Homo sapiens: one gene and its partners. The protein of the gene in region 1 purifies or fractionates together with the protein of each later gene. This does not show direct contact. Each region holds a gene or a part of one and is shown in the gene's direction. Other genes may lie near its edges.

Region 1 (4,147 bases):
CCCTCTGCTGTTCAGCTACGTGGAGGAGCTGGTGGAGATTCGCGTGAGGCTGGGGCCATGGAAGTGGGGGGCGGGGGCGCTGTGTCAGGTGGGCCCTAGGGCCGGGCCAGTACCCTCTTCTCCTCTGGGCCACGGGAGGTTCTGAGCAGAGGAGGGAGGCCACCTGCTTAGGGTGAGCCAGGCGCCGCGGCTGCCCTTTTGGTTGAAGGTGCTGGAGCGGTGTCCCGTAGTGATCTGATGCCAGGTGTGAACACAATATTAAATTTTGTAATAGCCACGTTAAAAAAGTAAAAAGAGCTGGGCACGGTGCTCACACCTGTAATCCCAGCACTTGGGAGGCTGAGGTGGGTGGATCACTTGAGGTCGGGAGTTTGAGACCAGCCTGACCAACATGGTGAAACCCCATCTCTACTAAAAATACAAAATTGGCCGGGCATGGTGGTGTGTGCCTGTATCCCAGCTACTCGGGAGGCTGAGGCAGGAGAATCACTTGAACCCGGGAGGCTGAGGTTGCTGTGAGCCGAGATCGCGTCACTGCACTCCAGCCTGGGCAACAAGAGCGAAACTCTGTCTCAAAAAAAAGTAAAAAGAAACAAGTGAAGTTAATGTTAATAGTATATTTTATTTAGCCCAATATATCCAAAATGTTATTTCAACATGAAATCAATGTACATTTTTGAGATATTTGCTTTCTTTTTCTTTTTTGTGCCACGTCTTTGGCTCCAGCATGTAGCCTCTGCTAAGTCTCACTGCACAGCGGCCACTTTGAGGTGCTCTGTGGCTGTGCAGGGCTGGTGGCCACTCTCTTAGCCAGCGGTGAGGGAGGAGGTAGGGCGGGAGCCGAGGGCAGACGGGAGCTGCAGTCCTGGCAGGACATGATGGCGTCTCACGCCAGGTAGTGAAAGGAGGCAGGTCCCATTTTACCCGGGAGGAGACTGTGGCAGCACGTTGAGTTGCCAAGGCCAGGGCTGGGGAGGCAGCTGGGATTTCTCCGGAAGTTTGGCTTGGTCCTGAGGCTGCTGGTTCCTAGACAGTTGTGTGCCTGTGGGGCCGGGTGAGGGCAGAGGGAAGGGAGGGTTTTCTGGACCACGGTAAGTGAGCCTCACGGTCCTGCCCAGCCTGGGAGCTGTGATTTTGGGTTTTGGTGAAGCACTCAGATCTCGGCCCTTCGTGGGGAACCAACCCCTCCTGGCCCTGCCGTGGCCCCGGGTGTGCGGCCCACACAGGGGCCGCCCTGTGTCCTGGCTGAGGAGGCCTGCCTGCTCCCGCCTTGTTTGCAGAAGCTGCGCCAGGACATCCTGCTCATGAAGCCGTACTTCATCACCTGCAGGGAGGCCATGGAGGCTCGTCTGCTGCTGCAGGTCAGACTGCCAGCAGGACTGGCCCCCGATGGGAAGCGCAGCCAGGGTGGTGAGGCACCTCAGGCTCAGGTTTTTTCCGGACAGCTTGTGCGTGGAGTGCCTTTAGCAGAGGGTCGCCTCACCACGGTCCCAAGGAACAAAGCAAACAGGTGTTCTGCCTACAAAAGAGTTCTCCAGTCAGTTCCGTTTGGCAAACCCTGCAGCCCTTATGTGAATCTCCATGGGGTGGGTCCAGCCCAGCCCTCGTCAGGCAGGTTGACCACAAAACACAGTTTTCAAGGTTCATCTAATTATGTGCTCAACAGATACAGATGTTCTAGATTCTGGAACAGTGAACGAAACAGACAGGAATGCTTGCCCTTAGTGCCTTTCAAGTAGGGAAGACAAGAAAAATACGTTGTGTGCTGGGGTGGTGAACTCTGTGACAAGATAGAGAAGGAAGGGTGGGGAATGTGGGAAGCGTGGGGAGTGCGGGGATGCGGTGTGGCTGGGAGGGGCTGCCTTAGGGAGTGGAGGGCGGGGGGCTACACAGGTCAGGAAACGTGGCCCGGGTCCATCTTCCCCTGTCGGCTTCCTGGGGCTCCTGGATTCTACTCCTGGGGCCCAGACCCTTGTGTAGCTCGTTTCTCTGTGAGCACCTGGGCCCTGACCACTGCAGCGACCATGGGTGGGCGGTGGGAGGGGCCCTCCCCGGTGCAGGGCGTCACGGCTGCTGGGACTTGGCAGCTCCAGGATCGGCAGCATTTTGTGGAGAACGACGAGATGTACTCTGTCCAGGACCTCCTGGACGTGCATGCCGGCCGCCTGGGCTGCTCGCTCACCGAGATCCACACGCTCTTCGCCAAGCACATCAAGCTGGACTGCGAGGTGGGCCTCTGCCCGAGGGCCGCTCTTCTCCAACCCCAGCCCTGAGGGGGGATTGGCAGGAGAAGCAGCCCAGCCCAGTGTGTCCCTGGCCTCAGAGTGCCCAGAGGAGCTGGCACTGACGTGCCCGTGCCCCAACCCCACACTGTTCCCCCCAGCGGTGCCAGGCCAAGGGCTTCGTGTGTGAGCTCTGCAGAGAGGGCGACGTGCTGTTCCCGTTCGACAGCCACACGTCTGTGTGCGCCGACTGCTCCGCGGTCTTCCACAGGTGGGTGTGGCCTGGGCCCCGCACTCGGGGGCTGGGGCTCTGCGCTGTCCTCTGGGGAGCTGCCCCTTGGCCTCCGGTAGGATGATGCCGTGGGAGCTGGCACTGCTCCCCCGAGAAAGGGGAGACATAAAGACTCTTTGGGTCTTTGCTGACCCTGAGATATGAAGTCAGACCCTGATGTCTGTGACTAAATGAGAAGTTCCCTTAGGAGCGGCACCTGGGGGATGAGGGGGCTGCCCCTTCCCAGGTCCCTCCCGGACCAGCCCCTGAAACTCCAGCTTGGTCTCTGATGTGTTCACAGCATCCCAGCTGCTCCCTTTCTCTACTAGGATTGAAGTCACTCTTTCAGGGTTAGTATAGGCTAGAGATTCCCAAACCTATAGTTCCTGCCACCCTTTAATGTCTCAGTAATTTTTTCAAAGTGTTTCTAAGCCAGAAGAAATTCCTAACACTTTGATTTATTAAGTACTTATGCTCTCGCGTTTTTTTTCCTAGCCGCTAGACCAACAGGGAAAAATACTTATGTTCAAACAACTTTATAAGTATTTGTATCCTAAAGATTGAGTGGCTCTTGGAAAAATAATGTACACAAATTAGAAGAAAAATATTTTAATTTCATTCTTCAGTAAGTATGATTACTTACTAATGATATGGGTACACCTTTTGGGCCTCACACATCTTCCAGACCTGGAATCAGATGGACACTCCCCCCCAGTTTCTGTCCCCTGATTTTTGCCTGGAATTTGCTATTTTTCATAGCAACTGCTGAAATCCCAGCTCTACAGAGCGATGGTGTCACACAGATGGGACTGTGGCAGAAACTAAGGTTGAGACTGAACTCGCTCGAGCTAGTCGTTTGCTCAGTGTCTGACAGGTGTTAATTACTGCTACGTTCTGTTTAAAAGTTTGAACTAGGCTGCGGTGCCCCAGGGTGCCGTGATGTACAGTTTGGGAGCCAGGGGAGGGATAGGAACAGGTGGGAATCGTGAGGAAGGGCTCTGAGTCGAGTCTGGCGTGGCCACCTGGCTCAGCCCCTCAGCTGTGTGAACTGGGACCTGTGTGGTTGGGGGATAGCAGGTAGCGTGAGGACCCCTGGAGGTCCACATCTGCACGCCCGTAAGCGCTCTGCACACGGCCATACAGTCACTTGCATCTGGCTGCAGACTCCGACTCTGCCCTTTGGTAACGGCTGTAGAGGGGATGATAGGAGCTGACCTAGGACGCTTGGGGGGATTCAGTGCTGGAGTTTCCTGTGCAGAGAGCCCCGACCTCTTTCTGCCCCCAGGGACTGCTACTACGACAACTCCACCACTTGTCCCAAGTGTGCCCGGCTCAGCCTGAGGAAGCAGTCGCTCTTCCAGGAGCCAGGTCCCGATGTGGAGGCCTAGCGCCGAGGAACAGTGCTGGGCACCCCGCCTGGCCCGCCAGGACCCACCCTGCCAACATCAAGTTGTTCCTTCTGCTCCGGAGACCCCTGGGGTGCGGCCCTGGCCCCCTCCACCCCTGCTGGGCCAGAGCGGGTGGGCAGTGTCAAGGCCCGCTGTCTCCCAGGTGCTTGCTGGGACTCGGGGCGGCTGCACCTGGCTGTCACCTGGGTGTGCTGCTGTGAGGGGTCCTTGCGTGGCCCCCATCCTTCCCCCAATGCAGAACTCCA
Region 2 (4,147 bases), on another chromosome or scaffold:
TGTAATCTTGGTGGCTCACTGCAACTTTCACATCCCGGGTTCAAGTGATTCTCCTGCCTCAGCCTCCCCAGTAGCTGGGATTATAGGCGCCTGCCACCACGCCTGGCTAATTTTTTGTATTTTTAGTAGAGACGGGGTTTCACCATGTTGGCTAGGCTGGTTTCAAACTCCTGACCTCAGGTGATCCACCCACCTCAGCCTCCCAAAGTGCTAGGATTACAGGCGTGAGCCACCACACCTGGCCAATTGTAGGGTTTTAAGTGAGAAAGTAAGATGAAACAGATTTGTGTTTGGAAAGATCATTCTGGCTACCCCATAGGGACCCAGAATGGAGAGCACGGAAATCAATGTGGAGGCTGGGCACAGTGGCTCACGTCTGTAATCCTAGCACTTTGGGAGGCCAAGGCAGGCAGATCACGAGGTCAGGAGATCGAGACCATCCTGGCTAACACGGTGAAACCCCGTCTCTACAAAAAATACAAAAAATTAGCTGGGCGTGGTGGTGGGCGCCTGTAGTCCCAGCTACTTGGGAGGCTGAGGCAGGAGAATGGCGTGAACCCAGGAGGCGGAGCTTGCAGTGAGCCAAGATTGCGCCACTGCACTCTAGCCTGGGTGACAGAGTGAGACTCCGTCTCAAAAAAAAATAAAATAAAATCAATGGGAGAGATGAGTTAGTTGTTTTGGCAAGGAATTTTTCTTCTGGGACAGTTCTTTCGCTTTACACTCAAAGTTATTGACTTTATTGTATCAGCAAAGCAATTATATTTTAAAATAATAAAAAACAATTTTATTTTTCACACCATCTCACAGGCAGTATCATTCCTTTTTTTTTTTTGAGATGGAGTCTTGCTCTGTCACTCCCAGGCTGGAGTGCAGTGGCGCGATCTTGGCTCACTGCAACCTCCGCCTCCCAGGTTCAAGCGATTCTCCTGCCTCAGCCTCCTGAGTAGCTGGGATTACAGGTGTGCGCCACCACGCCTGGCTAATTTTTTATATTTTTGTTAGAGACTGGGTTTCGCCATGTTGGCCAGATTGGTCTCAAAACTCCTGACCTCAAGTGCTCTGCCCACCTCGGCTTCTCAAAGTGCTGGGATTATGGTTGTAAGCCACCATGCCCAGCCACAGGCAGTATCATAAGAAGACAGGGATGTCAGGTAGGTTTTGTTTCACTCATGAACTCTATGCCTTGCTAGAGTGCTGGGCTAAGAAGAGTTCTGAGGTAGTGTCTGTTAGATGTGGAGTGGGGGATGGTGGCATCCATGCTACTTGTTTTCCCTCCAGATGGTAAATTCTTACTCTTTCTCTGCCTAAAGTAACCATTTCTTTGCCAGGTTTTGTGGTTTTTAGCTTTTAAATATTTTTTGTATCTGACCCATGATGTTCTTCTATATTTCATTATTTCTCTCTCTCTTTTTTTTGTTTCCTTTTTTTGAGACAGGGTCTCACTTTGTTGCCCATACTGGAGTGCAGTGGTGTGAGTATGGCCACTGCACTCTAAACGATCCTCCCATCTCAGCCTCCCAGGTAGCTGACCACAAACATGCTCCACCACACCCAGCTAGTTTTTGTAGAGACGGGGTCTCCTTATGTTGCCCAGGCTGGTCCTGAACTCCTGACCTCAAGCAATCCTCCTGCCTTGGCCTCCCAAAGTGCTGGGATTACAGGCATGAGCCATCATGCCTGAACTATTTCATTATTTTTCATTTGGACTTTTATAATAGTTTCCTACCTATTCTCCTTCCTTCAGTCACATATCCCATCAAAACACTCTACAGTGATGCCATTGTACTGTATAGATCGAGTGATATTTCTCCCTTTAAAGACCCTGTTTCCTCCAGTGTGATGAAGCAAAGATCTTTCAATGTGACATCCAAACCATCCATGTTTAGGCCTTTGTTTCCCTCTCCAGTGTCATCATTCATTGTTTCCACCTTTTCAAATCTATGCTGCTGCCAGCTATTTGCAGTTCACTCAAAACTATCTTCTAAAACTCGGTTGCATTTTATTTCCCTGCCTTTGCACCTGCCATTTCTTGTGCCGGTGGAAGAAGAAATAAGCTAGGTAGGCTGGCAAAATTTTGTCCTCTTTTAAGATGAAGTTTCTCACTCACAAGTAGAATGAGCTGTTCTCTCTCTCTTTTTTTTAATTGTATAGTGCAATCACTTTTATTATGGTATCTACAGGTCAATGAATTTTGTCTTCATACTGATTATACTAATCTGGCCATCTCCTCCTCATCTTTCATTGACACACTAGACTGCAGTCTCTCTGAAGTCAGAAATTGGTCTTATTGACCTGAATCTCCAATTCCTAGCACAGGATTTGGCACAAAGTACATGTTCAATAATTGGAATAAAAGAGCCTCTTTCACATATAAGGAAGCTGAACCTGAAGGAATAAGTGACTTCACCAGTGTCTCATGGTAAAACTGGGATACAACAGTTTGTTGTTACTCCAGATGCAATATTTCTTTCATTATACCTTGCCTATACACTTAACAAATAATGTGCTTTAAGTTAATTCAATGTTCTTTCTGAATATAAAAATTGTGATAATGGAAATCTCCCTAGCAGCTTAGATTGTATATTTAAGAGGGTAGGAACTGCTCAGTTGTCTTTGGTTTATATTAATGTTTTCAGGTGAATAGGCTATATTTTTTCATGATTGAGGGTATAGACTATGATTGAAAAGCCAATTGAACAAATTGTGTATTATTTTCTATGTTGCATTGATGAATCTCCTTTGAATATTGGAAAATAAGAGATAAATAAAAATGTTTTTTATTTTCTGATTTTCTAAGAGTTTGTTCTGGATATTAAAATTATAGTTGAAGGCCAGGCGCGGTGGCTTGTGCCTGTAACCCCAGCAGTTTGGGAGGCTGAGGTGGGCAGATCCCTTGAGGTCAGGAGTTCAAGACCACCCTGGCCAACCTGGTGAAACCCTGTCTCTACTAAAAATACAACAATTAGCCGGGCGCGGTGGTGGGCGCCTGTCATCCCAGCTACTCAGGAGGCTGAGGCATGAGAATCACTTGAACCTGGGAGGCGGAGGTTGCAGTGAACTGAGATTGCGCCACTGCACTCCAATCTGGACGACAAAGGGAGACTCCATCTAAAAAAAAAAAGTTGCAGTTTAGTCCTTATATTCATATATGTTGAGTATTCATATTCATTCAGTGAGTTTTTATTCCTGCCTGCTGTAATCCATAATACTTGAACATTGTTGTGAGCAGTTTACATACCTTAATCCATTCGATGCTCACAACCCTCAGTTAAGTACTGTTTCTCTTCCCACTTTACCCATGAGGAAGCTGAGTCCTAGATAGTAACCCGTTAAAAGTCACATAATTAATAAATGGTTGAGTCAGGATTTGGACTCCAGCAGTCTGATTCAAGAGCCCAAACCCTTAACCAGGATGGTAAACTGTATTAGTTACTTTGTTTTCAGAAAGGCTACAGAGATGAAAAGATAGGACTTCTGCTCTCAAGGTAATTGATAGTGTAATGGAGAGAAAAGTTATGAGAATGAGAGAAGTAATATTTGTTGAGTGACTGTGCCTTGTGAGAAGCTATGCTAAGCATATCTTATGCATTCTCATTTAAACCTAATTGTCTTCAAACTTGTATGCTTTCTGCTGCTTTGTGCCACCTTTTTTTTTTCTTTCTTTTTTTTTTTTTTTTTTTTTTGGGATGGAGTCTTGCTTTGTAGCCCAGGCTGAAGTGCAGTGGCGCCATCTCGGTTCACTGCAACCTCCACCTCCTGGGTTCACGCAGTTCTCCTGCCTCAGCCTGCCGAGTAGCTGGGATTACAGGTGCCCACCACCACACCTGGCTAATTTTTGTATTTTTAATAGAGACGGGGTTTCACCATGTTGGCCGGCTGGTCTCGAACTCTACCTGCCTCGGCCTCCCAAAGTGCTGGGGTTACAGGCGTGAGCCACCGTGCCTGGCCTGTGCCACCTTTTGTGCAAATACAAAATCAAGGCCATGAGTGGTGGCTCATACCTGTAATCCCAGCACTTTGGGAGGCCGAGGTAGGTGGCTCACTTGAGGTCAGGAGTTCAAGACCAGCCTGGCCAACACGGTGAAACCACAACTCTACTAAAAATACAAAAAAATTAGCCAGGCTTCGTGGCACATGCCTGTGA
Region 3 (4,147 bases), on another chromosome or scaffold:
GCATGTGGGAGAGGGTGAGGGGACCCTGGGTGGGAGGGGCCGGAGAGGCAGCAGGACCCAAGGCCTGAGAGCCTACCTTTGGGTTTTCCTCTCTTCTGTAGCCATCGAGGGCCACAGTGGTACCATAAGCAGAGCAGGTGCCTGAAGGGCCTGTGCAGCCAGATACTGGATCATTACCAGGCAATGATCCAGATTTTTAAGGTCTTGGATGTCAGGAGACATAATTGTCCCTGTTCTTTTCTAAATCTCACTGTACTCTCAGCTCCTTCCCAGCCGCAGCCCCACCTTCCCTCTGTAAGGAAAACCCACTCCACTGGAGAAGACCCAGAGCTCCTTGTTGTAAGAATTGGCCTCGCTAGAGGATTCCAGGCCCATTATGTACATTTCAGGGGAAATACCCTCAAATCAAGGGGTGCCTTCCTGGAGTCAGACCTCTGCTGCATGCGTCTCCGTCTTTCCCCGTAGGAGCAGTCAGGGCTATGCCTGTGGGGGCTGAGCACCTGTACTCATCCTTTCCAGCAAGTTCTGTTTGAGTCAACAGCTTGATAGAACCTCTACCCTGAGCCTTACCCTGTGCCATCCCCTGGGGACCTGGAAATGGCTCCTGACAGTCCCTGACTTTGAGGAGTCATGCTGGAGACACAGAAGGAAACTCTCCACAGAACTGCTGAAGTGGACGGGGCTGCACTGCAGACGGCGGGAGCAGGAACACTGGGAGAGATGCGGGAGGAAGGGCAGGAGGGCCTGGGGGCAGCCAACATCGGAGGTGACCTGAGAGGAGAGCACAAAGGCTCGTCAGCCTCTGGCTGAGGAGCTTCAAGGGGGCCCCAGAGCACAGGCTGCCGCTCAGAAACTGCCCACCAGGCCCTCGGGGAAGGGTGTGCAGACAGAGTGGGGTACACCCAGGGGCCTCAGAGCAGGGTTGAGGGTGGCTCCCCAGGGAGTCTGGACCAGGCCCCACCTGGCAGGGTGAGAGCAGAGTGCCCTTTGTGCCAGGCATCCTAGGAGGGCCTGGCTGGCAGGTTTGGTGAGGCAGGAAGAGCCATTTTGGCCTAGTCAGGGTATAAGATGAGCCATCAGCAGGCCCAGAGATGCTAAGCAAGGTTAAAGTATTAATGGAAACTACGCTGTTTTTATCTTTGGAAAAATTCCTGGGCCTTGCCATCCGAGAAGTACACTCACCTCTCACAAGCGCACAGAGCCTTCCTCACGGTCTTTCCTCTGCCTTCCCGGCACCAGCACAAGCTGTGTTCCAGCCTGGGGCTCACTCCAAGGACAGGCAGTGCCAGCTCCTGGGCCTGGTGTTGCCCCTGCTGTCCTTAACCCTGTTCACGGCAGGAAAATACTCTTCACCTTGGCCAAGCAGAGCAAGGCCCTCGGTGCCTACAGGCTGGCCCGGCACGCCTATGACAAGCTGCGTGGCCTGTACATCCCTGCCAGATTCCAAAAGTCCATTGAGCTGGGTACCCTGACCATCCGCGCCAAGCCCTTCCACGACAGTGAGGTGAGGATGCAGCACCCTTGGGCAGGTGGCTTCTCCTCTCCCTTGAGGCCATCTCATGCCTTCTTGCCTGGCCTGGGTTCCGTTTGAAGAGAGACAGCTGCAGCTCCCTCTAGGCTCTGTGCCCCCTGCTCAAGCCTGGCCATGCCAGCTCCCCTGTGCTTCCCTGTCCACCTCCTGTTCTCCCCGCAGTCCACCTGGCGCCCGCTCACAGCCCCCGGCCCCGGCCTCAGCCCTCAGCCTGGCCTCCCTTGCTCCTTGCCCTCCCCTAGGCAAGCCCCACACCTCTGTGCCCAGGTGGCTCTGCCTTTACCCCAGGCCTGGCCCCAGAGCTGACTCTTACTCTAGAAACCTCTGCCCTTTCTGGAACCAGGCTGTAGTTCTCCAGCAAATCTACCCCACACTCCCAACCCACATTCCTTCAACCCAGCCAGCTTCCTTCTTTCACACATCCTCCCTCAAGCTCAGAGCAAGGACTTGGTTCAGACAGACCTGGGTTCACATCCCGGCTCCACCCTCTCCTAGCTCTGTCTCCATCTTTCTGCACCTTGGGTTCCCCCTTTCCCACAGGTAGTTGTGAGGCTAAATGAGCCAGTATAGTCCACGTGCTCCGCACGGTGCCCGGAGCATGGTAAATGGCTGGCTAATGGTGGCAGCGGCCACTGTCATTCCTGCCAGGGGAAAAGTGCCGTTGAGCGCTGCCTGTGCAGGTGTCTTGGGCACGGGGACCCAAGTGACAGGGCTTGGGTATTTCGGCAGGCCTTTATCCTGCTTCCCCATGGCATGGAGCTCCTGGGCCCGGCGCCCCTTCCCTGCCTGCCCACCCGGGTGGCCTTTCCTCTTGGCAGCCAGGCCCCAGGGGCCTGAAGCCAGAGTCCAGGGGGAGGAGGACACGTGCCTGCCCCGGCCCCTCGGGAGTCCGTGGCTGTTTTGTAGGAGTTGGTGCCCTTGTGCTACCGCTGCTCCACCAACAACCCGCTGCTCAACAACCTGGGCAACGTCTGCATCAACTGCCGCCAGCCCTTCATCTTCTCCGCCTCTTCCTACGGTGAGTCCCTGCATCCTGAGCATGTGGGTGGGACAGCCTGTGGACAGCCAGGCTCACTCCACTGCTCTCTGGCCTCAGGACGTTGGGCAAGGGCCAAAGGCCTCTGAATGTCCCTGTTTATGAAATGAGGACACTCTGACGCCCACCTACCTGACACAAGGAGTCACTGTCGGTGTTCCCAGAGATAGGACCCACTGCTGCCCAAAGCTGAAGCACCCACTCTGGGAACCTGGCGCAGGGCTTTACATAACCAAATGCCCCAGAAAGAGAGTCCGATGGCTTTGCATTCAGACCAGGAGGCTGAGATAGGTTATCAAGGCCCAGCTCCTTTGATGTTGACAGAGGATCAGAAGCCCCTTCCCAGGAGCTGAGCAGAGGCCACACACACACACAGACACACACGCACACACAGACTGCCCCTGCACACACACACATACAGAAACTGCCCCTGCACACACACACACAGACTGTCCCTGAACACACACACAGACTGCTCCTGCACACACACACACAGACTGCCCCTGCACACACAGAGACTGCCCCTGCACACACACACAGAGACCGCCCCTGCACACACACACACAGAAACCGCCCCTGCACACACACGGAGACTGCCTCTGCACACACACACAGACTGCCCCTGCGTGCACACACAGACTGCCCCTACACACACACAGATTGCTCCTGCACACACACACACACACACACAGAGACTGCCCCTGCACACACACAGAGACTGCCCCTGCACACACACACAGAGACTGCCCCTGCACACACACACAGAGACTGCTCCTGCACACACATACAGAGACTGCCCCTGCACACACACACAGACTGCCCCTGCCCACACACACAGAGACCGCCCCTGCACACACACATGGAGACTGCCCCTGCACACACACATGGAGACTGCCCCTGCGTGCACACACAGAGACTGCCCCTGCACACACACAGATTGCTCCTGCACACACACACACACAGAGAGACTGCCCCTGCACACACACAGAGACTGCCCCTGCACACACACACACACACGGAGACTGCCCCTACACACACACACAGAAACTGCCCCTGCACACACACAGATTGCTCCTGCACACACACACACACACACACACACACACACAGAGAGACTGCCCCTGCACACACACACACAGACTGCCCCTGCACACAGACACACAGAGACCGCTCCTGCACACACACAGAGACTGCCCCTGCACACACACACAGAGACTGCCCCTGCACACACACACACACAGAGGCTGCCCCTGCACACACACAGACCGCTCCTGCACACAGACACACAGAGACCGCTCCTGCACACACACGGAGACTGCCCCTGCACACACACAGAGACTGCCCCTACACACACACACACAGACTGCCCCTGCACACACACACACACAGAAACTGCCCCTGCACACACACAGATTGCTCCTGCACACACACACACACACACACAGACTGCCCCTGCACACACACACAGAGACTGCCCCTGCACACAGACACACAGAGACCGCTCCTGCACACACACATGGAGACTGCCCCTGCACACACACGGAGACTGCCTCTGCACACACACAGAGACTGCCCCTACA
Region 4 (3,584 bases), on another chromosome or scaffold:
TTAGCCTCGGAGCTGCCCGATGGCCTCTCCACTCCTGGCACATGGCCTGCTGGCTGGCCTGGGGCAGAAGTGCGTGGAAATGGAGGGCGTGTTTGAGGGGTGGAGTGACCCTCCTCTTGGGAAACCACTGCCTGGCCTGTGTGCTGGTCGGGAAGGGCCATGGTGCTTCCCATGGGCGGGCTTGGCAAGCCTGCGCTGAGTGCCGTGGCGTCCTGATGCCTCCTCCTCCTCACAGCTACAGAGGGCCGGAGCTGGAGATGTGGTCTCTGGGAGTCACTCTGTACACGCTGGTCTTTGAGGAGAACCCCTTCTGTGAGCTGGAGGAGACCGTGGAGGCTGCCATACACCCGCCATACCTGGTGTCCAAAGGTGAGCGTGAGCTGCAAGTGGTAGACAGTCGACACTGTCCTTAGAGACCAGCCACTTTTTTTTCCCATTTCCTCATTCCTCAGTGTATCTCTGTCCATATCAACAGTCTCATTTGTTTCTTTTCTATTCATCAAATAATTTGCATATGACTTTAAAACATCTTGATAATTTAGTTTTTGTTAATGTTCCTCTTTGGATCTTAGAGGCCCTCTTGTGAGAAACACACTTGCAGTCAGGACAGGGAGGCTCCAAGTGGCCCTGTTGACTTGGTGCCTACATGGTTAAAGGAACTGGGGCCCGAATCCAGATGCAAGGCTGGGGGCTTCTCTCAGCTTGTGCTGGCATCCCCTCACCTGTCATGTTAACCCTGCGTTATTCACAGCTCTGCATTGCCAGAGCCCCTGAGAATAGAGCAGTTAGGAACCTCTGCACCACCTGGATTTTGGTTGAGTGGGATGGCATCTTGAACTCCAAGCTTTCATTTCAGAGGCAATGAATGTTTCCTGCAGCTTCTGTCCAAGCACAGCTGGGCCCTGCACTAGAGGTTCCTGGGCCGCCACCTGCCCAGTCAGAGGCTCTGCGGGGGGGTGGTGAGCACCCAGGAATCTGAGATGTGCTCCACTTCATCCCAATCTGGACCTACCATCTGTGTTCTTTGTGTCCCCAGAACTCATGAGCCTTGTGTCTGGGCTGCTGCAGCCAGTCCCTGAGAGACGCACCACCTTGGAGAAGCTGGTGACAGACCCGTGGGTAACACAGCCTGTGAATCTTGCTGACTATACATGGGAAGAGGTGTTTCGAGTAAACAAGCCAGGTGAGGCTTCTCAGCATCCCTCCACCCCACATGACTTCACTTGGAATAACGAGGTCCCCAGGCTGCCTTCCTAGGTCAAAAGGAGGAAAAGGAGGCTCTCTCCCCCATGCTGTCTTGGACACAAATGTCAGGGCCTATAGCTGACCTGTCACCTGTGAGAGGGGGTTTGATTCTGTCCCGAGGCCTCTGGACACCACTGGGGTTCAGGGTGTGGCTTTGGACCTTGGAGGGTGGGCAGGTGTCATGGGAGCTCCTGGCAGAAGGGGTCGGAACCCTCAAAGATGGTTTGAGGAATGCAGCTGGTGATGGTCTGACTGGGCCGAAGGGGAGGATGAGGCCACAGATGCTGAGAGTGATTCTCTAGCAGCCGGCGGGGCCGAGGGCTCTTCAGACAAGGCTCTGGCCACAGAGCCAAAACCACTGCTCAGAGCATTTGGACCAAGCTGCGGTTGATGGCCCTGGGCTTAGATCCCCACCTTGGCAGGATCTGTACTTCCGGGACATTGCCAGTTGGATTTCTGAGGGCCTCACCTTAGGCTTTTGTTCTAGGACTTCTTCAAGTGAGAAGCAAAGTATTTTAGAACCTTAAGTTGTTAGCACGTGATACAGTTACCTTCTTGTTTCTTCAGAAAGTGGAGTTCTGTCCGCTGCGAGCCTGGAGATGGGGAACAGGAGCCTGAGTGATGTGGCCCAGGCTCAGGAGCTTTGTGGGGGCCCCGTTCCAGGCGAGGCTCCTAATGGCCAAGGCTGTTTGCATCCCGGGGATCCCCGTCTGCTGACCAGCTAAACACCAATTTCTTCCTGCTTTTCTCCACTTGGTTTGGAAAATCACACAGTTTTCAGGCTCCATCTGTTTGGAGAAAATACATTCTGAAGCATCCCCAATTCACCTTCTAAAAACTCATGTGCAGGTTTGATAAACACCAGAACAGAAGACAGTGATGCTGTATTATTTTAGATTTATTACATAGATTTGGAATTCACTTTTTTCATGACCTAGAAAAAAACATTCCAGTGTTCAACTGTTTTATATTATTAAAGGGCTTTTAATTTGTGAACTTCTGAAGGCATGAGTGTTTTCTCTTTCTACTTTTGTATATGTGCATGTTTTGTTTCCTCTGACTTGGTATATGCTCATCTGAGTGACGGATATGTGAAATTTGTAGAACTGGTTAGTCAAATGGCCAGACTATTTCATTAATTTATTTCCTCAAATGCTTTTCAAATTAAAGCACCTTTGTTAGTAAACAGTTATCCTGACTTGGATGTTGTGAACTGTTCCCGTGTGCTAAGTGTGAGAAATACCTGGTTTCCTCATTTTTCCATGTGTGCACCCCACTTGCCACAGTTGGAGAGAAGTCTAGCCTTGGCCATTCTGGGGTTCCTTTTACAAGCAGGCCCTGCCAGGGGTGGGCCTAGGGCTCTGAAGCTTGCTCCATCTGGTAAGACGGGGGAGGGTGGCTTCCTCAGGGACCTCCCTTCTGTCTGTAGCAAGACTCTGCTGTCAAACACGTGGCTGGCTCACTGCCAGCAGTCCCCAAATATCCCATGGCCAGCCAGCTCCCACCTCTGTCCACATGAGGGGCTTCCTGGCCCAGCCCCCACCTCTGGTCTGTGTGAGGGGCTCCAGCCCTGTATTCCTCCGAGCTGCTCAGGTTCCAGGGTGTTTGTCAGATACTCAACTGGCTGCTTCCCTCCCTTAGACTCCAGTCCATCCCCCTCAGACAGACTTGGCTAGGTCAAGTACTTAGGATTGTTTTATTTCATGTCTGTGTTAGAGAGGAGGGAATAGCTAGAGGTGAGAGCAGAACCTTTCATTTTTTTCCCCTGCTGAGACAGTAGGAAAAAAACCAAAAACCTAAACCCCTACCCTTTTCCCACATGTCATCACTTGCAGACGGTTTTTCCACATTCTGAGACTCCTGCCCAGAACCCTCTGGAAGCTGCCTGGGAGCCAGGCTGCCTCCTGCGTGGTTCTGAGCTATTTCTAGTGGTTATTTAGGAGGCACTCAACTGTTTTGGGATGATCAGAGTTAATTTTAGTCCCATCTAGTAGGATATGGGCTATTGCCATCCCTTTCTTCAGAAAGTGCTGCCTGAGCCTCGCTGCCACCACAAGTGACTGATGGAGTTGGTGGGGGAGGACCCTCCTCTATCAGGGACATTCAAGGTACAAGGGTTTTACAGGTGTGTATTAAAGTCAGTGATGTTCACTCTTCAGAATTCAAAGAGTTTTCTGATGTTTTAAGAACCCCTACCTTGTAGTGTTTATGGTGCTTATAACACAGAGGATGTTATAGAATGGTGTTTGTTTGTTTGTTTATTTATTTAGAGACAGAGTCTTATACTGTCGCCTGGGCTGGAGTGCAATGGTGCGATCTCAGCTCACTGCAACCTCCGC
Region 5 (4,147 bases), on another chromosome or scaffold:
AATGAAACAGAAATAGAGAATCTTTATCTTGATGCATGTCTAGCTTGTCTTAATTTTATCTGATGAAATCTTGTTTGAAACTAGCTCTATTATCATACTTGGTTTTTTTTTGCAATCACAAAAATGAAATTTGTGTAACATTATATACATAAATATTGCCTGTAAAAAATGAAGATCAAGAAAGCATGGGACAGTGTACTTGATGACAGTAAACACCTTAAATGTGAAGGTAGTGTTGAAGTGCCTCATAAAGATGAGTGGATATACAAGACTTACATAATATTGTTAGGATTTATCTCTTTTAGAAATTTGTCAGTGACTTATCAAATTGGTGAAAGTTTTACTGCCCTGGCTCATAAGTACCTTAATTTAATGGAATGTAGTTATGACAAAATTTGGAATTTATTTTTGATTATAGAAGACATACCACACAATACATGTGCTGAGAGTTTTTTATTTATTTTATTTTTATTTTTATTTTTGAGACAGGATCTCGTTCTGTCACCCAGCTTGAAGTGCAGTGACGTGATCTCGGCTCACTGCAGCCTCTGCCTCCTGGGCTCAAGTGATTCGCCCATCTCAGCCTCCCAAGTAGCTGGTACTATAGGTGTGAGCCATCATGCATGGTTGATTTTTATATTTTTTTGGAGAGACGGGGTTTTGCCATGTTGCCCGGGTTGGTTTTGAACTGCTGGACTCAAGCAGTCCACCTGCCTTGGCCTCCCAAAGTGCTAGGATTACAGATGTGAGCGTCTGTGCCTGGCCTGAGTATCATATATTTTACACATTAATCATACTGTTTTCCCTTCCCTGTAGTTGCTACCTTAGGGATTCTTTAAGGAGGTGTTTGTTCTCCATTTCAGAATTTTCATTGAACAAATTTTATGCAACTTTTGGATTTTTAAAAAATTTGTTAAACATCAGGCACACTGCATTGGATTAATCACCTATCTGTCTGTCAATCATTTTAATAAGTACTCATGGACCACCACTCCCCCTCTCTCAAAACAAGCTAGGAACTTTAACCTACGTATAGTTTTCCTCTATTCTATCCGTCTATTTCCACCTTCTTGTCATCTAGGTCATCATTTTTGAGTCCTGTGTTCATTCTCTTCCTTATATAGTAGTCCCTCCTTATCCACGGTTTCAGTTACCCATGGTCAACTGTGGTCCAAAAATAGGTGAGTACAGTATAGTACTATAAGATATTTATAAGTACTAAGATACTTTGAGAGAAACCACACTCATAACTGTAATTACAGTATAGTTATAATTGTTCTATTTTATTATTAGTTATTGTTAATTGCTTACTGTGCCTAATTTATAAATTAAACTTTAGCATAAGTATGTATGTTAAAGGAAAAGTGTAAATAGAGTTTAGTACTGTTCGTGGTTTTAGGCATTTACTGAAGGTCTCTCGGTGGATAAAAGGAGACTACTGTGTATAGTTTAGTTGGACATATAAATCTAAACATCTTTTAGTTGTTTGTATAGAATTGTGAATATAATCTTTTTGAACTTGATTTTTCACCTGTTATAAATAAGATTTATCCACATTTTTGCATGTTGCTATAGTCATTATTTAAATTGCTATATAATATTTCATTGAGTAAAATATTCATTAACTCTACTTTGGTGGATATTTGGATATTTATCCACTCTCCCTTGTTGGGCAGTTATTTTCCATTTTTTGTTTTGTTTTGTTTGTAATTATAAGCAAAGATCCTATGGACAGTCTGCATGTTTCCTACTGTGCATGTGCCACAGTTCCTATTATATACCTAGAGGTAGCATTGCTGCCTCACAGGGTAGGTGAATGTTCAACTTAAGAGATGATGCAGAACTTTCAATATGGTTGCACCAATTTATATTCATATTAGCAATATATGAAATAAAAGATCCTTTGGTTATCCATCCTCTCCAACACTTGATATTCTCTTTTTAAGTTTTACAAATCATAAGGGTGTAAAATGTTGCCTTATTGTGGTCTTGATGCGCATTTTCCTGGTTATCACTGATGTAGAACACTTCTTTTTATGTTTGTCGGCCTTTTTACGTGGCTTCTTCAGTGAAATTCCTATTTATGTCTCTTGCCTATTTTTGTTTTTCTTACTAGTTTATAAGAGTTCTTTATATTGCTTATGTTAATCCTCTGTGTACATTGTGAATGTCTTCTTTCAGTTCCTAACTTTTTCGCTTTCTTTTATGGAGTTGTGTGGGAGGGACAGTTTTAAATGCCTCTACCTTCTTTGGCAAATATTTGGAATAATTTACATCGTTATCATCAACAGGCTTGTATTTAATATCTATTGTACATTTGGTATAGAAAGGGTAAAGTTATATTAATAGTTTATGGCCTGGGGATTTGTAAACTATCCAAATGAACAGCCATAGGAAGTTGTATAAAATATTGTATTGCTTCACACATGCTAGGCACCCAAATGCTAGGTTGATTTAGTTAATGAGTAAATTCAGAAGCAAAGAAATAGCAAAAATTATACATACACTTCATCAGTTGCTTATTTTCCAATTCCATACCTCTCTGTTGCAAACTACTTATTATTAGTCATTAATAATATTTTATTCTTTTGTTTAAAGGGCAGTATATTCCGTAAGATTATGTGAGTCAGTTATTTAGGTATTTTCATAGCTTGCCATTAAAATGCTGGAGTTGATCAGATTTAATACTGGATATAAAGCAAAATATTAATCTTCTGAACAGTTTACTAGTTCAGAAGTTTACAAACTCGGAATCCTAAATACAGTTTTTGTCATTGCTGTGCATCTTTTGATAAAAAAAATTCTTAAGTCAAATTTGTCCATTGTTTATCATACAGTAAGTCCTCACTTAATGTCATTGACGGGTTCTTGGAAACTGACTTTAAGCAAAATAACTTATAATGAAACCAGTTTCTTTTTTCTCATCAGTGTTCTAAGGAAATGATATTATAAACAATGAAACATTAGCCAGAAGTGGTGATGCACACCTGTAGTCCCAGCTACTTTGGAGGTGGAGGTGAGAGAATGACTTGAGCCCAAGAGTTAAGGCTGCAGTGAGCTGGAATCGTGTCATTGCACTCTAACCTGGGCAGCATAGTGAGACCCTGTCTCAAAAAAAGAAAGAAAAGAAATGATATTGAGCGAAACAGCATTATTAAAGGACCTGAAGCACATTGTTTTTCTTAAAGTCTCAGTTCCAAGAACCTATCAGCAGTGTTAAGTGAGGACTTACTGTAATTGCTTTTCATGCCCTTTTAAATAAATTATTCCCTATCCTGGGTTTAAAAGATAGCTACCCAAGTTTGCTCCTAAGAATCTTGCAGTTTTATTTTTTAGATTTAAGTCAGTTTATCTGGATTTGTTGTTTTTTAATAGACTTCATATTTTAAAGCAGTTTTAGGTCCACAGCAAAATCGAGAGGAAGGTCTAGAGATTTCTCAAATAACTGCGTCCCTACATATGTACATATGCATTATCGACATCCTCCACAAGAGTACATTTGTTGCAGTTGATGAACCTATATTGACACATCATCATCATCCAGAGCCCAGAGTGCACACATCTTGGTGTTGTGCATTCTATGGGTTTGTACAAATGTATAATGACATGTATCCAGCATTATAGTATACAGAATAGTGTCCCTGCACTAAGCTTATTCTCTGTGTTCTACCTATTCATCCTTCCCTCTCCTCCATCCCCTGGCAACCACTGATCTTTTTACAGTTTCCATAGTTGTGCGTTTGGGAAAATCTCATGCGGTTGGAATCATACAGTGTGTAGCCATTTTACATGGGTTTCTTTCACTTAGAAATAAGCATTTAATTTTCCTCCATGTCTTTTCATAGCTTGATAGCTTATTTCTTTTTAGTACTGAATAATATCCCATTGTCTGTATGTACCTTAGTTTATTCATTCACCTACTGAAGGACATCTTGGTTGCTTCTGTTTTGGCAGTTATGAATAAAATGCTATAGACATCCTATGCAAGTTTTTGTGTGGATGCAACTTTTCAACTCCTTTGGTTAAATACCAGGGTGTCCAATTGTATGGTAAGAATATATTTAGATTTGTAAGAAACTCCCAAACTGCCCTCCAGAGTGCCCGAACTATTTTGTATTCCTACCAACAATAAGAGTTTTTGTTGTTC
Region 6 (4,147 bases), on another chromosome or scaffold:
AGTGCTGGAAGGGTCCAGAGAAGGAGTCTCACTCTCCATTGCTTCAGGATAAAGGCTAAGCTCCTCATTACCATGCATGATCCAGTCCCTGCTGACCTCTAGCCTCATCCCCCAGCACTGCCCACCTCACTCCTCTGCTATAGCCACACTGAACTCCTTGTAGGTATGTTCATTTTTCCCCGTAAGATGCAGTATGCTCTTTCATCCCTATCCTTTGCACATGTTGTTTCTTCAGCCTGGAAGAGATTCCCCCTGTGCTCTGCCCTGTTGCCATGTTTTGTTTTGCCTTCAGGTTTCAGCCAGTTTCAGGTGTTACCTTTTCAATGAAGTCCTTTCTCAAGGCCATCCCTCCTTATCTCCAGCTGCTTTGAGTGCTTCCTTCTCTAGGCTCCCACAGTGCCCTTTATGGACCGCTATTGGCAATTTTTAATTTTTATGAACACATGTCTCTAGAGTACTGTATATACTTGGAAGGATACCATGTCTTGTCTTTGTGCTAGAGTCCAGCGTAGTTCTGAATACGGGTTTAGTAAGTGTTTATTGGATGAATAAAAATGGGAGGATTCAAGACTGGATGATAAAAGACTGCTCTTGCAGCTCTACCTGCTTATTTGGGGAGATGGTACATACGTGCAGTTGAGCTCCAGACCTAGCATGACTAGCCTATACAGGGCTGTAAATCATTCAGCCAGCAAACACAGTGGATTTCCAATGGAGAACTTTTGCTCTTCTCCCCTGGCAGATTGAGTCATATGTCTGCCGGATGTGTTCTCGAGGGGATGAGGATGACAAGCTCCTGCTGTGTGATGGCTGTGATGACAACTACCACATCTTCTGCCTGCTGCCTCCTCTGCCTGAGATCCCCAAGGGTGTCTGGCGGTGCCCAAAGTGTGTCATGGCGGTAAGGCCTCCCCACTCCACATCTGCCTCATAGGGCTTCCTTGCCTTCCTTCATCTGGCCTTATTGAGGGCAGCCTCTTAGCTCAGCCATAGTCTTAGGTTTTGGGTCTCTGTGGTGGGATTAGGCTGGGCAGAGCTTTGGGAGAAAGGAGCAGGAGATTCAGCCTTTGCTTCTGTCCTCTAAGAGCTCCCAGACCACCTGGAGAGGTAAGCATCATAATTAGACTATATGTGGTGACATATAAACAGAGGCTAAATTGTGTGTTAGAAACTCTGAGATATAGAAGTTCAGAGGAGAGGAAAATAGCTAAGGGTAATAATCAGGGAAAATGTCAGAAATGAGACTTGAAGGATAGGAATATTAAGAAAAAAATGTTCTTTCAATTTCTGAGTTTTTGTTTTGTTTTTTTTTTTCTTTTTTAGAAAGTTTGAGGCCGGGCGCGGTGGCTCACGCCTGTAATCCTAGCACTTTGGGAGGCTGAGGTGGGCGGATCGTTTGAGCCCAGAAGTTTGAGACCAGCCTGGGCAACATGGCGAAACCCCGTCTCTACCAAAAAAGATACAAAAATTAGCCAGGCATGGTGGCGCACGCCTGTTGTCCCAGCTGCTCGGGAGGCTGAGGTGGGAGGATCGCTTGAGCCCAGGAGGCGGAGGTTGCAGTGTGCCAAAATCATGCCACTGCACTCCAGCCTGGGCAACAAAATGAGACCCTGTCTTCAAAAAAAAAAAAGACATTTTGGAAAATAGGCAAATTACTTGTGTTCCCACCACCCAGTGATAACCATTGTTAATAGTTTGATATATTTTTTTCTCATCTTTTTGCTGTTACTTATATGTAACTATCTTTAACAAGTTTGAGATCTTGTTATATATTTTCATTTGTTGCTTTATAACCATTTCTCTATATTACTAAGTTTAATTAAGGTCTGGAATTTTTTTAGATGGTGTATCATGGGTATAATATTTATTTAGTTGTTTTCCTCTTGTTATATTTAGATTGAGGCAGTGCTACAGGCTTTAACTAGAGAGGTGGTTGGCTGTTCAGGACTGGGAGGTGGAGGACTAGCAGGAACAGAGGTATAGCAGGAGAGCATGCCTACTATGGGTATAGGGGCAGTAAGGAGAGCAGCTGAAGCAGCAGTAAGGGCCAAGCAGCCAGGAAGTTGGGCAGGTACATTTCATGAACTTCCTACCTTCACCCAAATTCTCGGTACTTACCTTCTACATTTCCCTCTGGATTTCTGTAGAGCAGACATTCGCCTTATCTTAGGGACTCAACTGTGGTTGTAGAGACCGGGTGTGCACATGCATACATACACACAGACAGACATACACAGATGAGGAAAAATCAGGGCAGTGCATATTGGCCTTGGTAGTGGTGGAGATTCTAGTTGGGGAGGAGTTTGGATACCAACAGTATCAAGACTGTCGACTCTACTTGACTCTCTTCTCTAAGTGGTTATAAGTCAGTGGACCAGACGGACATTTATTTTTCAAACATAAGCATGGTGTGTGTCTGATTTTGGGGTACATATTGTTCTCATCTAAAATAATGAACATAGGTACAAAATGAGGTAGACCCACATCCTATCTTCTGAGACAGTCTCAAGAACAGGATTAGTGGAGGGTTTGATACTGTAAAAGCCAGTGTCTTCATTTTCCATCTTTCTTTTTTCTTTTTCTTTTCTTGCGACAGAATCTTGCTCTGTCACCCAGGCTGGAGTGCAGTGATGCCATCTCTGCTCACTGCAACCTCTGCCTCCCGGGTTCAAGCGATTCTCCTGCCTCAGCCTCCTGAGTAGCTGGGATTACAGGCGCCTGCCACCACACCTGGCTAGTTTTTGTAGTTCTAGTAGAGACAGGGTTTCACCATGGTGGCCAGGCTGGTCTCGAACTCCTGACCTCAGGTGATCCACCCCACCTCAGCCTCCCAAAGTGCTGGGTTTACAGGCATGAGCCACCATGCCCGGCCCTGTTTTCCATCTTTCAAGGTACTGGAATATTCAATGCCATTTTCCCAGCCTTACAGTTCTAGTCTGGGCATAAAAAACCTTCTCTAAGCACCCTGCATAGAACCACATTTTAGAGGCCAGGCGTGGTGGCTCACGCCTGTAATCCCAGCACTTGGGAGGCCAAGGCGGGCGGATCACAGGGTCAGGAGTTTGAGACCAGCCTGGCCAACATGGTGAAACCCCATCTCTACTAAAAATACAAAAATTAGCTGGGCGTGGTGGCGGGCACCTGTAATCCCAGCTACTCGGGAAGCTGAGGCAGGAGAATCGCTTGAACCTGGGAGGCGGAGGTTGCAGTGAGTTGAGATTGTGACCCTGCACTCCAGTCTGGGTGACAGAGCAAGACTCCGTCTCAAAAAAAAAAAAAAAAAGAATCACATTTTAGCTAGAGAGGAAAAATGGTGGCAGAAGAACACAGGATAGCATATTAAAGTCAGAGCCATTTAGATAAAGTCCTAAAGGAAGAAAAGAGCATGAGATGACTCCCTGGAAGTTGTGAGACTGGAATTGAGTTTTGAGGAACCAATGAAAGAAAGTGGAAAAGGACATTTCAGTAGGGAGGAACTGAGCAAAAGCATGATGGGGAATGAAAAGACTAAGCCGAAGTGGTAAGAGCAAAAGGTACAGCTGTAAAGTAAGGCCTGCCTCAGGGGCCTTGAGTGCAGACCTAGGGCTCTTCTCCCTCCCTACCCCTTATATTCCAGTTCCACTTGGGAGGATTCTTCACCTCTTTGCCTCTGTTTTGGTGACATGTTCTCCTTTGGGTTTCAGGAGTGTAAGCGGCCCCCAGAAGCCTTTGGCTTTGAGCAGGCTACCCGGGAATACACTCTGCAGAGCTTTGGCGAGATGGCCGACTCCTTTAAAGCTGACTACTTCAACATGCCCGTGCATGTAGGTGATGGAGGGCTGAGGTAGTGTTGGGCTAGGATCATAGGTATTGATGCCAGATGGTCTCAGCTCACCTGGATCAGTGGGTCCAGGGTGTGATGGGCCATAGTCATCTGCTACCTGTCTTCCCCCAGATGGTGCCCACAGAACTTGTGGAGAAGGAGTTCTGGAGGCTGGTAAATAGCATTGAGGAAGATGTGACTGTTGAGTATGGAGCTGACATCCATTCCAAAGAATTTGGCAGCGGTTTCCCTGTCAGTGACAGTAAACGGCACCTAACCCCCGAAGAGGAGGTGAGTGGATGATTCATGGTTACGTGTCAGCTGTGTGAGCTTAGGCAAATCATT
Region 7 (4,147 bases), on another chromosome or scaffold:
AGGTAACAGGGCAAGACTCCATCTCAAAAAATAATAATAATAATTTCCTTGGAAAAAAAATAATAAAATTAAACTAAAATTGCTGGGTGCAGTGGCTCACACCTATAATCCTGGCACTTTGAGAGGCTGAGGTGGGAAGATTGCTTGAGCTCAGGAGTTTTTTTGAGACCCAGTCTCAAAAAAAAAAGAAAAAAAGAAAGTTTTCTTGGCTGGGCACAGTGGCTCAAGCCTGTAATTCCAGCACTTTGGGAGGCTGAGGTGGACGAATCATTTGAGCCCAGGATTTCTAGACGAGCCTGGGCAACATAGTGAAACCTCATCTTTAGAAACAAAAAAAATTAGCCGGGCGTGGTGGCGCATGCCTGTAATCCCATCTACTGGGGAGGCTGAGGCAAGAGAATTGCTTGAACCTGGGAGGCAGAGGTTGCAGTAAGCCAAGATTGCACTGTTGCACTCCAGCGTGGGTGACACAGCAAAACTCTTTCAAGAAAAAAAAAAAAAGAAAGAGTTTTCTGGTCTGGCTCAGTGGCTCATGTTTATAATCCTAGCAGTTTAGGAGGGTGAGGCATGTGGATCACTTGAGTCCAGGAGTTTGAAACCAGCCTGGGCAACATGACAAAGCTCCATCTCTACAAAAAATACAAAAATCGCCGGGCGCGGTGGCTCACGCCTGTAATCCCAGCACTTTGGGAGGCCGAGGCGGGCGGATCACGAGGTCAGGAGATCGAGACCATCCTGGCTAACACGGTGAAACCCTGTCTCCACTAAAAATACAAAAAATTAACCGGGCGTGGTGGCGGGCGCCTGTAGTCCCAGCTACTCGGGAGGCTGAGGCAGGAGAATGGCGGGAACCCCGGGGGGCGGAGCCTACAGTGAGCCGAGATCGCACCACTGCACTCCAGCCTGGGCCACAGCGAGACTCTGTCTCAAAAAAAAATAAAAAAATAAAAAAATTAGCCAGGTATGATGGTACGTACCTGTAGTCCCAGCTACTTGGGAGGCTGAGGTGGGAGGATTGCTTGAGCCCAGGGAGGTTGAGGGTACAATGAGCCATGATCGCGCCACTGCACTCCAGCCTGGGCAACAGAGAGCCCGTCTCAAAAAAAAAAAATTAGGCTGGGCACGGCAGCTCATGCCTGTAATCTCAGCACTTTGGGAGGCCGAGGTGGGTGGATCACCTGAGGTCGGGAGTTCGAGAGCAGCCTGACAAAAATGGAGAAACCCCGTCTCTACTAAAAAATACAAAATTAGCCGGGCCTGGTGGTGCATGCCTATAATCCCAGCTACTCAGGAGGCTAAAGCAGGAGAATTGCTTGAACCCGGGAGGTGGAGGTTGCAGTGAGCCAAGATGGCACCATTGGAATCCAGCCTGGGCAACAAGAGCAAAACTCTGTCTCAAAAAAAAAAAAAATTTGCAAAAATTAGCTGGGTGTGGTGGCGGGCGCCTGTAGTCCCAGCTACTCGGGAGGCTGAGGTGGGAGAATGGCATGAACCTGGGAGGCGGAGCTTGCAGTGAGCTGAGATTGTGCCACTGCACTCCAGCCTGGGTGACAGAGTGAGACTCCAAACAGAGTGAGACTCCGAGCAGAGTGAGACTCTGAGCTCTGTCACCCAGGCTGGAGTGCAGTGGCGCGATCTCGGCTCACTGCAAGCTCCTCTTCCCGGATTCATGCCATTCTCCTGTCTCAGCCTCCCGAGTAGCTGGGACTACAGGTGCCCGCCACCACACCTGGCTAATTTTTTGTTTTTGTATTTTTAGTAGAGACAAGGTTTCACCGTGTTAGCCAGGATGGTCTCGATCGCCTGACCTTGTGATCTGCCGGCCTAGGCCTCCCAAAGTGCTGGGACAGGTGTGAGCCACCGCGCCCGGCCAAAAAAGTTAATTTTCTTATCTTGCACTGAGATCTGTCTCCTTGTAGCAGCAGCCAAATCATCATCAACAAATAATCTGAGAGCATGGGCTTTGAAGCTGTATCCCACCGAGATACAGTGAGAGCTGGAAAGGCCAGTGCCTGTCTCCACAGAGCACTGCTACAGGGCCGACTGACCCCATTCCATTGTGAGCAGAGCTGAGAAGAGGAAATGCAGGCTCTGGATGGAGCCCTCTCACCTGGCCTTGGGGAATCGAGGAATATTTTCTTTTCTTTTTTTTTTGAGATGGAGTCTCGCACTGTCGCCCAGACTGGAGTGCAGTGGTGCGATATCAGCTCACTGCAACCTCCGCCTCCTGGGTTCAAGCAATTCTCCTGCCTCAGCTTCCCGAGTAGCTGGGATTACAGGCCTGCACCACCATGCCTGGCTAATTTTTGTATTATTAGTAGAGACAGAGTTTTGCCATGTTGGCCAGGCTGGTCTCAAACTCCTGACCTCAGGTGATCCATCTGCCTTGGCCTCCCAAAGTGCTGGGATTACAGGCGTGAGCCAACCATGCCCGGCCCAAGGAATGTTTTCTAGAGGAGGTGGTGTCTTGGCCTTGAAGGACTTACACGGGAGTACTTATGGCCAAGTAGACAAGTTGAGGAACGCAGAAGAAACAGCTTGTTAAAAGGCCTAGAAGTCAACTACTCAAGGCCACCCCATATCCTGTCCCCTGGCTAAACACCCCAGATACTTGAGTTGTCCTTTTTTTTTTTTGAGATGGAGTTTTGCTCTTATTGCCCAGGCTGGAGTGCAGTGACACGATCTTATTGCCCAGACTGGAGTGCAGTGGCGCAATCTTGGCTCACTGCAACCTCCGCCTCCCGGGTTCAAGCAATTCTCCTGCCTCAGCCTCTTGAATAGCTGGGATTACAGGCATGTACCACCACACCTGGCGAATTTTTATATTTTCAGTAGAGATGGGATTTCTCCATGTTGGTCAGGCTGGTCTCGAACTTCCGACCTCAGGTGATTTGCCCGCCTTGGCCTCCCAAAGTGCTGGGATTACAGGCGTGAGCCACCTCGCCCCACCTCTTTTTTTTTTTTTTTTGGAGACAGAGTCTTGCTCTGTCGCCCAGGCCGGATTGCAGTGGTGTGATTTCGGCTCACTGCAAGCTCTGCCTCCCGGGTTCACGCCATTCTTCTGCCTCAGCCTCTCGAGTAGCTGGGACTAACTACAGGCGCCCGCCACTGCGCCCGGCTAATTTTTTGTATTTTTAGTAGAGACGAGGTTTCACCATGGTCTTGATCTCCTGACCTCGTGATCTGCCCACCTCGGCCTCCCAAAGTGCTGGGATTACAGGTGTGAGCCACCACGCCCGGCCTTTTTTTTGGGGGGGGTGGGGGACAGAGTCTTGCTTTGTCGCCCAGGCTGGAGTGCAGTGGCATAATCTTGACTCACTGCAACCTCCGCCTCCCAGGTTCAAGCGATTCTCCTGCCTCAGCCTCCCAAGTAGTTGGGATTACAGGCGCCCACCGCCATGCCCGGCTAATATTTGTATTTTTAGTAGAGACAGAGTTTCACCATGTTGGCCAGGCTGGTCTCGAACTCCCGACCTCAGGTGATCCACCTGCCTCAGCCTACCAAAGTGCTGGGATTACAGGTGTGAGCCACCACGCCCGGCCTCAAGTTTTTGTTTTGTTTGTTTTTTTTTGAGCTGGAGTCTTGCTCTGTCGCCCAGGCTGGAGTGCAATGGCACAATATTGGCTCACTGCAACCTCTGCCTCCCGGGTTCAAGTGATTCTCCTGCCTCAGCCTTCCGAGTAGCTGGGATTACAGGTGCCCACCATCATGCCCGGCTGGTTTTTGTATTTTTAGTTGGGATGGGGTTTCGCCATGTTGGTCAGGCTGGGCTTGAACTCCTGACCTCAGGTGATCTGCCTGCCTTGGTCTCCCAAAGTGTTGGGATTACAGGCATGAGCCACTGCGCCCGGCCGAGCTGTTCTTTCTAAGCTTCTCTTTCTACCCTGGACCCCTGCCTTTGTTTACAAGTTCTCTCTGTGTGTAACCCCCAGGCCCAGACTCTCCCTAAATGATACTCTTGGGCCTGCTTCGTGTCCTCAAAAGCTGCTAGATCCCCACTGCTTTCTCTACCCTTTGAGGGACAACCCTCTAGTGACGTGACACATGAACTTACTCCGTTGACAAAACACGTTTCATATCCATTGGGAGAGGTGGGGCAGAGCTGGGACTCACCTCCACTGTTCAGATGGGGAAACTGAGGCCCAG

What was found.
Region 2: the proteins of DEF8 (region 1) and ZMYM6 purify together in Homo sapiens (affinity purification with mass spectrometry; 2 studies listed by BioGRID and IntAct, with this or other methods). This does not show direct contact.
Region 3: the proteins of DEF8 (region 1) and IFT122 purify together in Homo sapiens (affinity purification with mass spectrometry; 2 studies listed by BioGRID and IntAct, with this or other methods). This does not show direct contact.
Region 4: the proteins of DEF8 (region 1) and PASK purify together in Homo sapiens (affinity purification with mass spectrometry; 2 studies listed by BioGRID and IntAct, with this or other methods). This does not show direct contact.
Region 5: the proteins of DEF8 (region 1) and PKN2 purify together in Homo sapiens (affinity purification with mass spectrometry; 2 studies listed by BioGRID and IntAct, with this or other methods). This does not show direct contact.
Region 6: the proteins of DEF8 (region 1) and KDM5C purify together in Homo sapiens (affinity purification with mass spectrometry; 2 studies listed by BioGRID and IntAct, with this or other methods). This does not show direct contact.
Region 7: the proteins of DEF8 (region 1) and PKN3 purify together in Homo sapiens (affinity purification with mass spectrometry; 2 studies listed by BioGRID and IntAct, with this or other methods). This does not show direct contact.

Annotation. Positions count from the first base shown.
Region 1 is NC_000016.10:89,962,083-89,966,229, forward strand, and holds part of DEF8 (differentially expressed in FDCP 8 homolog), read left to right. Parts: coding exon 1-43; intron 44-1,280; coding exon 1,281-1,361; coding exon of another isoform or gene 1,362-1,739; exon of another isoform or gene 1,740-1,829; intron 1,830-2,087; coding exon 2,088-2,228; intron 2,229-2,383; coding exon 2,384-2,493; intron 2,494-3,778; coding exon 3,779-3,881; 3' UTR 3,882-4,147. UniProt on the Homo sapiens protein: Positively regulates lysosome peripheral distribution and ruffled border formation in osteoclasts. Involved in bone resorption.
Region 2 is NC_000001.11:35,025,006-35,029,152, reverse strand, and holds part of ZMYM6 (zinc finger MYM-type protein 6), read left to right. Parts: intron 1-4,147. UniProt on the Homo sapiens protein: Plays a role in the regulation of cell morphology and cytoskeletal organization.
Region 3 is NC_000003.12:129,513,051-129,517,197, forward strand, and holds part of IFT122 (intraflagellar transport protein 122 homolog), read left to right. Parts: intron 1-1,338; coding exon 1,339-1,504; intron 1,505-2,437; coding exon 2,438-2,549; intron 2,550-4,147. UniProt on the Homo sapiens protein: As a component of the IFT complex A (IFT-A), a complex required for retrograde ciliary transport and entry into cilia of G protein-coupled receptors (GPCRs), it is required in ciliogenesis and ciliary protein trafficking.
Region 4 is NC_000002.12:241,104,952-241,108,535, reverse strand, and holds the end of PASK (PAS domain-containing serine/threonine-protein kinase), read left to right. Parts: exon of another isoform or gene 1-69; intron 70-235; coding exon 236-369; intron 370-1,036; coding exon 1,037-1,183; intron 1,184-1,812; coding exon 1,813-1,970; 3' UTR 1,971-2,437; downstream 2,438-3,584. UniProt on the Homo sapiens protein: Serine/threonine-protein kinase involved in energy homeostasis and protein translation. Phosphorylates EEF1A1, GYS1, PDX1 and RPS6.
Region 5 is NC_000001.11:88,690,600-88,694,746, forward strand, and holds part of PKN2 (serine/threonine-protein kinase N2), read left to right. Parts: intron 1-1,124; exon of another isoform or gene 1,125-1,181; intron 1,182-4,147. UniProt on the Homo sapiens protein: PKC-related serine/threonine-protein kinase and Rho/Rac effector protein that participates in specific signal transduction responses in the cell.
Region 6 is NC_000023.11:53,211,443-53,215,589, reverse strand, and holds part of KDM5C (lysine-specific demethylase 5C), read left to right. Parts: intron 1-742; coding exon 743-901; intron 902-3,683; coding exon 3,684-3,803; intron 3,804-3,934; coding exon 3,935-4,093; intron 4,094-4,147. UniProt on the Homo sapiens protein: Histone demethylase that specifically demethylates 'Lys-4' of histone H3, thereby playing a central role in histone code. Does not demethylate histone H3 'Lys-9', H3 'Lys-27', H3 'Lys-36', H3 'Lys-79' or H4 'Lys-20'.
Region 7 is NC_000009.12:128,708,356-128,712,502, forward strand, and holds part of PKN3 (serine/threonine-protein kinase N3), read left to right. Parts: intron 1-4,147.